Linked DNA regions of Homo sapiens: region 2 is linked to region 1. The links come from fine-mapping of genetic effects on gene expression. A gene starts in region 1. The other region holds a variant in brackets. All regions are shown on one strand. Distances are from middle to middle. Region 1 holds the start of OLFML2B (olfactomedin like 2B). Region 2 overlaps OLFML2B (olfactomedin like 2B).

The links. PIP is the estimated chance that this variant, and not a neighbour inherited with it, causes the effect.
Region 2: its variant is fine-mapped to the expression of OLFML2B in whole blood (TOPMed, PIP above 0.99).

What each region holds. Positions count from the first base shown.
Region 1 is chr1:162,021,352-162,026,728 of GRCh38, forward strand. It overlaps OLFML2B (olfactomedin like 2B), which reads right to left and starts at 2,518. Exons shown (of 8, transcript NM_015441.3): 1 at 1,906-2,518. The coding sequence starts at 2,079. RefSeq lists silencers at 2,630-2,779, 2,848-3,142.
Region 2 is chr1:161,987,219-161,992,595 of GRCh38, forward strand. All of the region lies in intron 6 of OLFML2B (olfactomedin like 2B), which reads right to left. Among named protein-coding and RNA genes, the nearest start is that of OLFML2B, 34 kb to the right of the region's middle. The variant G/A (reference allele first, on the strand shown) is at 2,704.

The DNA of each region.
Region 1 (5,377 bases):
CCCAGGCAGGAAAACACGCGACAGTAGGCTTTCTGGAGCCCCAACTCTGGGCGCTTGCTGGGAAAAGGCTCTTCTCTCCCAATCCTCTCCAAAAGGCCCTACATCCCCAAAGCCAGGGCTCCCTTCCTAGGCAGGCAGAAGGGTTCCCTTCATTTGATTAATGATTTCAGTGGGCAAGCATTGAGCTTGTTTGAGTAGAAATGTTCCTTGGGATGCTGTCTGGGGGAAGAAGACTTGTAATGTTTTCCTTGCAAAGATTGGGTTTCTTCTAATACTAATATTTGCTTTAGGGCTGTTGTCAAACACAGAATGGATCAGTGGAAGAAGGTGGTGTAGTTAAGGGTGACTTAAGCGGCTGTTCTTTACGGGCTGATAGTAAATTGTGGCTGTCTGCTCTCTGAAACTCTGCCTGGATTCCTACATAACCCTGCTCTGAGAACCCTGGGTGGATTCCTTCCTTACAGGAGGCTCGGGTTTCAGGAAAGTTTTTGTTGATAGTGTTCCAGAGCCCCAGTGTGAGAGATTTTTATGTCTTTTCGATTTAGGGGTCAGTGGGAGGTAATGGGGGGGCAGAGGGCATACATTAGCATCATTATTAAAGGAAGAGTGAGGAGGCTAGTGTTTGATAAATCCCAAAGTGCAGCTGATTATTCTCTCTACAGGAAGGAGACAAGGCCCAGTCCTAGGGCTTGGTGGAGGTGAAGGTACAGGCAGCCCTGGAGGATCCTTTTTCAGACATCCCCCATTCTGAGGATTCTGGTGACACCCACCACACGTCATCATGCCGGCTCTGGAGAGCACAAAATAAACACTCCAGAGAGAACTACCCCTTACAGACATGAGATCTGGGCTGAAGACTGTCAGACGCCCTGGCTCTACCCATGTATCTCTTCTTTTTTTTTTTTTTTTTTTTTTTTGAGACGGAGTCTCACTCTGTCACTCAGGATGGAGTGCAGTGGCGCGATCTCCGCTTACTGCAACCTCCACCTCCCGGGTTCAAGCGATTCTCCTGCCTCAGCCTCCTGAGTAGCTGGGACTACAGGTGCCTGCCACCACGCCTGGCTAATTTTGGTATTTTTAGTAGAGATGGGGTTTCATCATATTGGCCAGGCTGCTCTTGAACTCCTGACCTCGTGATCTGCCCGCCTCGGCCTCCCAAAGTGCTGGGATTACAGGCGTGAGCCACCGCGCCCGGCCTACCCATGTATCTCTTATGGTCTTTATCTATAAATGGGTATTAGGGTGTTTTGAAGATTGAGTCAGAAAAAACAAGTTTAAGTACTTGGTAAACGGACACTTTACGAAGCCCATCACTATCATGGGTTACTCGGGCCCCCACTGACAGTCTGCCCTAGCTGCCTGCATCTGCATTCCCACTCTCCCCTCCCAGTACACTCCGTCATGTTCTCAGTCTCTCTGTTTGGGGGTCACCTCACATTCATCACACATGCTTCTGTTCTGACTTCACCCCATGCTCCCGCCTGGTGTCCCACCCTCTGCCATAAAGTATCTCCCGATGGGATATGCCATCTGCCTCCTGGTCAACATATCCGGCTGTTTTCACATTCCAATTCTGACAGACAGCCACATAGACAAGAGATACTTTTTACAACCCTGAAACCAAAAACAACTTTGTTTTCTTTCTTCTCAAGAAGTCGAGCGGCATCTTCCCTTCCTTCACCTCTCCTTTCTCCTGATTTGATGACCTTTAAGCACCCTATGATTTTGCGAGGAGAACCTATATCCTTCCATTAAGAAAATATTCCGATACATGAAAAATCAAAAGCCCTTTCCATTGGTAATGGAAGGAAAAACAGCTGCCCTCAAACACTTCAGCAAGGACCAGCTTCTGGCTCTCACCACCATCCAGGGCAAGAAGGGCGGTCGTGGCACTCTGCATCCTACCTGAGATAAAACGTTCTCCTGGTTGTCCGCCTCGTTTTGCAGAGTCTCGTCCTCCGCAGGCGCCACTGTCTGCGCATCTGGGGGCTCGCTTGTCCCTGTGAGGACAATGCTGGACACCCAGGCCGGAACCACAATCAGAGCGAAGTAGAGAACTAGCAGCCGAGGCTTGGCCATGAGGGGCGCGATAAGAGTGTCCTCAGCCCCTTCAGAGAATGGCTGGGGCGGGGGGTCTCGGCAAGGACTTCTGCGAGAGGGTGTCCTCGCTAGAGCCCGAAAGTGGCTGCTGAGAGCACCTTCTAAAGCTGGGTGCGGCTGAGCGGGACGGGAGGGTGCGCCCCAGAGACTCTGGGCATCTCCTTCCCGACGCGAGCAGCCCTCGACTGTGCAGCCCCAGTGGAGAGCCGGACGCAAGGAAGAGGGGATGACGGAGAAGGTGGAGGCGGGCACGGGCTAGCTGAGCGAGTCGCCCGCAGGAGGGCTCAGGTGGCTGGAAGGCGTTCGGACAGACGCCCGCGGTGCGCGCCGGGACGGGCGGCGGGGAGCCTCGGGACGCACGGGGACCGGACACGGGGAGGGAAGAGGCGGTGGCGGCGCGGGCTGCTGGGCGAGGGCTGCTGGGCTAGGGAGCCGCGGAGAGCTCGCGCGGAAGGAGGGCGGAGCCTCTATTGTGCCGGGGCGGCGGAGATGCAGCCAGTGACCGCGCGGAGGAGGAGGACCTGGAAGCGCACAGGGCTCGGGCGGAGGGGTACCCGGCGGACCCCGTCCCCGCTGGGACTCAGCTGCCGCGCGCCGGCTGAGGGTGACGTTGGAAGGGCTTTACTTTCTTCTCATCTGATCGCAAGTGAGTGAAGAGAAGTTACTCCGAGCGGCGTCCCTGAAGTTTTGGGGTTCGACCATTCTTGGCGAGAAGAGCGACTTTCCATCGCAGGCACCCAGCGCTCGCTCCAAGGCTGAGCTAGTTAGGGATCTGCGGCATCGTCCTTTAGCACACCTGGGGCAGGGGAGAAGGCGCGTTTGTTCCCAGGCGTTTCTTTTCCCTGACTTAACTCTGGGCGAGTTCTCGGGCAGCTTTGAACTTAGCGCCGTTGGTAGCTGCTTGCCTGCCACGGCTTTAGAACCTAGTAATACCTCCACCCAGAGGAAAATCATTGAATTCCTTCCTAGAGTGTGTCCTGAGTTGTGTAAACGTTGAAAGTTAGGGGAATGACTGTACATCTCCGACACTCTCCGCGAGTCCCCATGGGGAAAGCTACTGCCTGATAAATGATTACCAAAGGGAACAGCTCTTCCTGTCTTCCTGGTTTGGGACAAATCTCCGGGTCTCTGTTACCAGATTATCTCTAAGAGGGAGTCCACTTTCAATAGTGTGCAATTATGTTACTATGTCCCTCAATTACTGAGGACAACCTTTTATAAACCTACAGTGAAGATTACCAATATGTGAATTTAAGGAAGGGCACTGTGCCATCCTGGACAACTGTCACTCGGAATATTGAACAGAGCCAGGCCCCTTCAAAGGATATTATGCACCCTTGGGAAATTCAAACACCTTGCTTCTTATGCTGAGGAATAAGGGTTGTAATAAACTAAGGAAACTAGCGCATATAAGTAATAGTTGACATAAGTATAATAATAACCCTTATTAGTATATTTTAATCTTCAAAAAATTCAGTTTATGGACAAAAATTCAATGCTCTGGGTGTCTAGGTTTGTGGGGACATCATGCACACACCCTCCTCTGTGTAAGCTATCAAATCTTTTCTGAAACTATATGGGGGTAAACATTGATAAAATGTGGTGTATTTGATTGTTTGTTTGAGACAGAGTCTTGCTCTGCCACCCAGGCTGGAGTGCAGTGGCGGGATGATCTTGGCTCACTGCAACCTCCGCCTCCTGGGTTCAAGTGATTCTCGTGCCTCGACCTTCAGAGTACCTGGGATTACAGGCGCACGCCACCATGCCCGTTTAATTTTTTGTATTTTTACTAGAGTTGGGGTTTCGCCGTGTTGCCAGGCTGGTCTCGACCTCCTGGCCTCAAGCCATCCATCCGCCTTGCCCTCCCAAAGCACTGGGATTACAGGGGTGAGCCACTGTGCCCCACCGATAAAGTGTAGTTTTAAAATTCAGTTAAGGGGCGGAGTGTGGTGGCTCACCCCTGTAATCTCTACTGAAAATACAAAAATTAGCCTAGCCTGGTGGCATGCACCTGTAATCCCAGCTACTCTAGAGGCTGAGGCAGAAGAATCGCTTGAACCCTGGAGGCAGAGGTTACAGTGAGCCGAGATCCGCCACTGCACTATAGCCTGGGCTACAGAGCAATACTTGGTCTCAAAAAAAAAAAAAAAATCAATTACAGTAAGCATTGAATGTTGATTAAGTGCAAGACAACAAGCTAGGTTGCTAGACATTTAATGGGAAGATGAGATAGTCCACATCTTACAAAGTGGGCGTGGGAGTCAGGAGGTAAGCAGAACAAGCACTGAAATTGTGAGGCAGAGTAAGAACATATCTCATGGGGTTTAAATAAGGAATAGGTCACTTCTAGTGGAAAGGTCAGTGTGGATTTCATGAAAGCATGATACTGAAGATGACTGGGATGATGGGAGGTTTCAACAAAACAGTGGATAAGGCAACATGATGGGAGGGGGGGCCATGGCAGGGGAGAGAAAGAGAGCATTCTGGGCAAAGACATAATCCTGAATGTGCATATTCATATTTCAGATGGCTGCTCACTTCTCAGGGCAGCCTTCCTTGACTCCACCACCAGCATAATTTCTCTATTAAATGCTCCCATAATACCATGTACCTCTTTTTCATAGAAGCAGGAGAGATGGATATTTATATTCCTCCTTTGTGGGTTGTTTTGGGGGTGCCTGTCTTCCCCACCAGACTATAAATTCAAGAGGGCAAGGACCTTGTTAGTTTTGCTCACCATTACATCTTCAGAGTTTAACCAGTGCCTAGAACAAAGTGGACACTAAATAAATATTGGTTGAATGAATGGAAATTACGAATTGTCCAACTGGGTGTAGGCTCAGTTACCTTTATAAATACCATCTCTGTATCCATTAGGGTGCATTTGACTGCAAGTGATAGAAAATCCTTCTAGGAATGTCTCAGTCAAATATACATTTATTATCCCACTCTAAGAAGACAAGCTTGGCTGTTTAAAATTTAATTCAGCAACTCAGTGATGTCAGCGAGGACCCAAGCTCTTTCCATTTTCCACTCCATTATTCTTACAGCATTGGCTTTTTGACCTAGTCATAATTGATTTAAGCAAGTCCCAGCTACCCCTGTGCCAGACATTCAATTTCCCAGTCTCCTTTACAGCTAGGGGTAACCACCCGGACAAGATATTTTGCTTCCTGATAAAAGAAACAAATAGGAGAGAGGACCTTTCTGGTGCTACTCTTCCCTCACTTCTTGTCTTTGATTGTGTCTTTGACCACAGTCAAAGTGTTATAGGACC
Region 2 (5,377 bases), 34 kb before region 1:
AGAGTCCCCTCTGAAGATGATGTGGTAGACTGAGTAATATACCCCTGAGATATCCAGGTCCAAATCCCTGGAGCCTGTGATTGGGACAAAAGGAAACAAAGGGGACTTTGCAAATGTGATTACATAAAAAAAATCCTGAGATGGGGAGACTATACTGGACTATCTGGGTGGTCCTATTGAATAAATACAGTCACAAGTATCCTTATGACACAGAGGCAAAGGGAGATTTGACCACAAGAGAGGAGGAAGCAATGTGATGAAAAAAGCAAAGACTGAAGTGATGTGGCCACAAGCCAAAGAATGCTGGCAGCCATGAGAAGCTGGAAAAGGCAAGAAACGGATTCTCCCCTCAAGCCTCTGGAAAGAACCAGCCCTTCTGATACCTTGATTTTAGCCCTGCAAGACTCATTTTGAATTTCTGGCCTCCAGAACTGTTAGAGAGTACATTTCTGTTTTTAGCAACTAAGCTTGTGGCAATTTGGAGGCATAGGAAATGGATACAGATGGAGTCAGCTTCTTGGGTTAGGGCACCCTTATTTCTGCAGGAAGAGGGGAGTCCCCGCTTGCATTTTCATAGTCCTAGTACTAGGACCTCAGGCTGCATTTTCACATGCCCTCAGAGAGAGCAAACACTGCTGCCCTGCGGATGAGCCCAGGCAGGACAAATGCAAATGATTTCAGAGCATTTGAAGACAGGATCAAGGGAAGAGATCAGTAAACCATGAGACCCAGACGCATCACTGTGCTCTGAGAATCTGGGGCAGCTCAGATGCTCCCACACTTGGCAGCAAACCATCAGCTTTGGAGAGAAGGTACTGTATGTTGACTCCTCTTCAAGGGGGATGACAGAAAGATGGGAGAAAGTTCAAAGGAACTGCAGACAGGAGAGTGCAGTCTGCATCTCATCTTAGGTTTTCCCAGAGCAGGGCTGCCAAGGATGCCGGTGACACTGACATTTACTACGCACTTTCTATGTATTCTGTCGTTTAACCAACAGTCCTGGGAGACAGCTGGTCCTGTTTCAAACGTTACCAGGGTCTGAAAAGAAGGGGCCCTTCCCCTCAGCATATAAACCTCCTCAAATCTCAGCATTCTAAAAGAAATAAATCAGCAAGCAAGAGCCTTCCTGGCTCTCCCCAGCTCTCAGCTCTGGTGCTTACTTGGCAAGCTTCCCCAGTAGGGTCCTTGGGCGTCTGCTCCCCAACTAACCTCGTCAGCAATGCCTCTCAGCCCCTCAACCCGACTGCTGCCCCTTGGGGTGTTCTCCAGTCCTCTTATTCTAGTCAAGCCTCTGTTTTTTGCTTGGAAACTGAGGTAGCCACCCCCCACCCCCGCTGACACCCACCCACCCACCTCAGAAGGCATTTCCTTCCTCCCCCAGCTTCCACCACCACTCTCTCCTGGTCCCGCCCACCTGCCTGGTCTGGCCTTCTCCAGCTCTTTGGCTAGTGCTTCCTCTTCTGCCTGCTTTCAAATGCCACCCTCTGGAGTTCCACCTTCAGCCTCCTCCCTCCTCATTCTTCCTGCAGACTCAGCTCCTGCCAACAACTCAGCCCAGGTCCTGATTCTGAGCACCGTGAATCCATCCAACTACCTACAAGGCACTTTCTTTCTGGATGTCCTCATGGCTCCTCAAACTTAAAGGACTGAAAATGGAAATCATTTGCTTCAGTTCACAGCCTGCTCCTCCTGTATTTACTGTCCCAGAGAAAGCCATGGCACACCATCCACCAACTGAGCCAGAAACCTAGGTCATCCCTGATGTCCCCTTTCCCTTCACCCACATTCCAACTCAGCACTGAGTAACATCTTGACCCTGATCCTCCACCTCTATGGCGTAGTTCAGATCTCACCAACTCTTGCCTGGATCACTCCAATTGCGCCAGTTTGTCTCTCTGGCTCATCTCTGCCCACTTCTAACTTATCCTCCCCAGTATTCCCTGTGCTGCTTTTCCAAGATGCACATCTTCTTAAACCCTTAATGACTCACCATCTCCAACCACCAAGTGCAGCCCAGAGTCCCCATCCTAGCACATCAGCCCTTCCTGCATCACCATTCTTACTGTTGTCATCTGCCTTCATTCAGAGGTCTCAAACTCAGATGCCTACAGGGGTCAGGCAGGAGCTGAAATGATGAGTCAGGCTGAGTGTGAGACAAAAGGTGGCAGAAGACACTGTGGTGAACTGGAAGAGCTGACCTGAAGGCATTCAGATTCAAGAACATAAAAACACATCTTAGGATGAATTTGGCCCTCAGGCTGCCAGCTTGAGATCTCTTGCCCACACCTAGCTGCTTGTATTCACCATAGTTGCCAGGGCTATGGTATTCACCGTAAACCCAGGGCTGGCTTTTTGGGCATATGATCTGTGCAATCACACAGGACCCTTGCTTTGAAGGGCTGCCCTTCATTTAATGATCTGCTGTCACCATCTTGAATATCTTAATATTTTCACCCTCGAACTTGTATTTTATGTGAAGTCTAACAGTGCAGCCTGTTTGTGAGCAGAGGAGAATGCAAGATATGTGTGGCCACATTCTTTGTCCCCCACTTGCATATAGGGTTTGCTATGCCCAATGAGCACAGAATTGCAGGTAGACCCACTACGTGCCTGAGTTCAGTGAGATTCAAAGTGAGCACAAGGTAGGTGTGTTGCCCCAGAGGCCACATTTTACATTTGAACCAGATCGTGCTCCGAAAGCAG[G/A]AAGAAGGCAGTGGTGTTCTAAGAAACACAAATGGTCAAGGAACCCTATCATATTCTTTCTTGTGTTACTTCCCTGTATTAGACAACAACCTATGTTGAAATTGATACGAAAGAAGAGGGAAGGATAGGGCAACTCATAGTTCCGTTTCTTTTTAGTCCTTCCTCACTCAGTAAGCTGAAGGCAGGGAGTGTTGTTAAAATGTTCATATATCAAGTAAAACAAAAACAGATGAATTAGTTTTGTGCAGTATTTCCACTATTCTAATAAGAACATACATACACAGGTATGAAGGAGTTACAAAATATGAAATGAGTCATTTTGGTGGATTCTGCATAAAAGTTGAAAGATCTTATATTTGCATTTAAAACTAACATTGCACAATATAAAGATGAATTGTATAATTCATGCTAGTAAATTAAATTTTTAATACAGGCATACCTCAAAGATATTGTGGATTTGGTTCCAGACCACTGTAATAAAGCGAATATCATAATAAAGTGAGTTTCACAACTTTTTTGTTTCCCAGTGAGTATAAAAGTTATGTTTACACTATACTGCAGTCTATTAAGGGTTCAATAACATTATGTCTAAAAAATGTATACACCTTAATTTAAAAATACTTTATTACTAAAAAATACTAATGATCATCTAAGCCTTCAGTGGGTCGTCATCTTTTTGCTGGTGGAGGGTCTTGCCTCGATGTTGATGGCTGCTGATTGATCAGAGGAGTGGATGCTGAAGGCTAGGGGGCTGTGGCAATTTCTTAAAATAAGACAACAATGAAGTTTGCTGCATCAATTGACTCTTCCTTTCATGAAAGATTTCTCTGTAGTGTGTGATGCTGTTTGATAGCATTTTACCCCATAGTAGAACTTCTTTCAAAATTTGAGTCAAGCCTCTCAAACCATGCCACTGTTTTATCAACTAAGTTTATGTAATATTCAAAATCCTTTGTTGCCATTTCAACAGTGATCACACTGTCTTCACCAGGAGTAGGTTCCATATCAAGAAACCACTTTCTTTGTTCATCAATAAGAAACAACTCCTCATCCATTCAAGTTTGATCATCAGATTGCAGCAATTCAGTCCCATCTTCAGGCTCCACTTCTAATTGTAGTTTTCTTGATACTTCCACATCTGCAGTGACTTCCTCCACTGAAGACTTGAACCCCTCAAGGTTATCCATGAGGGTTGGAATCAACTTATTCCAAACTCCTGTTAATGTTGATATTTTGACCTCTTCCCATGAATCATGAATGTTCTTAATGATGAATCCTTTCCAGAAGGTTTTCAATTTACTTTGCCCAGATCCATCAGAGGAATCATTATCTATGGCAGCTATAGCCTTACAAAATGTATTTCTTAAATAATAAGACTTGAAAGTCAAAAAGACTCCTTAATCCATGGGCTTCAGAATGAATGCTGTGTTGGCAGGCATGACAGCATTCATCTCCTTGCACATCTCCATGAGAGCTTTTGGGTGATTAGGTGCATTGTCAAAGAGCAGTCATATTTTTAAAATAATCTCCTGGCCAGGCGCGGTGGCTCACACCTGTAATCCCAGCACTTTGGGAGGCCGAGGCAGGCGGATCACTTGAGTTTGGGAGTTTGAGACCAGCCTGGCCAACATGGTGAAACTCCATCTCTACTAAAAATACAAACAATTAGCTGGGCGTGGTAGCATGTGCCTATAATCCCAGCTACTTGGGAGGCTGAGGCAGGAGAATCACTTGAACCTGAGAGGCAGAGGTTGCAGTGAGCTGAAATCGTGCCACTGCATTCCAGCCTTGGTGACAGAGCAAGATTCTGTCTCAAATAATAATTTCTTTTTCTGAGCAGTAGGTCTCAACAAAGGGCTTAAATTATTCAGTAAACCATGCTGTAAAAAGATGTGCTATTATCCAAGCTTTGTTGTTCCATGTATAGAGCACCAGGAGAGTAGATTTGCATAATTCTTAAGGGCCCTAGGATTTTTAGAATGGTAAATGAGCACTGGCTTTGATTTAAAGTCACCAGCTGCATTAGCCCCTAACAGAAGAGTCACCTTGTCCTTTGAAGCTTTGAAGCCAGGCACTGACCTCTCCTCTTTAATTATGAAGGTCCTAGATGGCACCTTCTTCCAATGGATGGCTGTTTTGCCTACACTGAAAATCTGTTGTTTAGTGTAGCCACCTTCATCAACAATCTTAGCTAGATCTTCTAGATAACTTGCTACAGCTTCTGCATTAGCACTTGCTATTTCACTTGCATTTTTACATTATGGAGACAACTTCTTTCTCTAAATCTCACGAACCAGCCTCTGTTAGCTTCAGACTTTTTTCTGCAGCTTCTTCACCTCTGTCAGCCATCATAGAATTGAAGAGAGTTAGGGCCTTGCTCTGGATTAGGGAATTTTGCTTAAGGGAATGTCGTGGTTGGACTGTCTTTTTATCCAGACCACTACAACTTTCTCCATATCAGCAATAAGGCTGTTTCATTTGCTTATCATTCATGTGTTTACTGGAGTAGCACTTTTAATTTCCTTCAAGAACTTTTCCTTTGCATTCACAACTTGGTTAACTGTTTGGCACAAGAGGGCTTTTGGCCTATCTCGGCTTTTGACATGCCATCCTCGCTCAGCTCTGACATTTCCAGCTTTTGATTTAAAGTGAGAAGTGTGGAATTCTTCCTTTC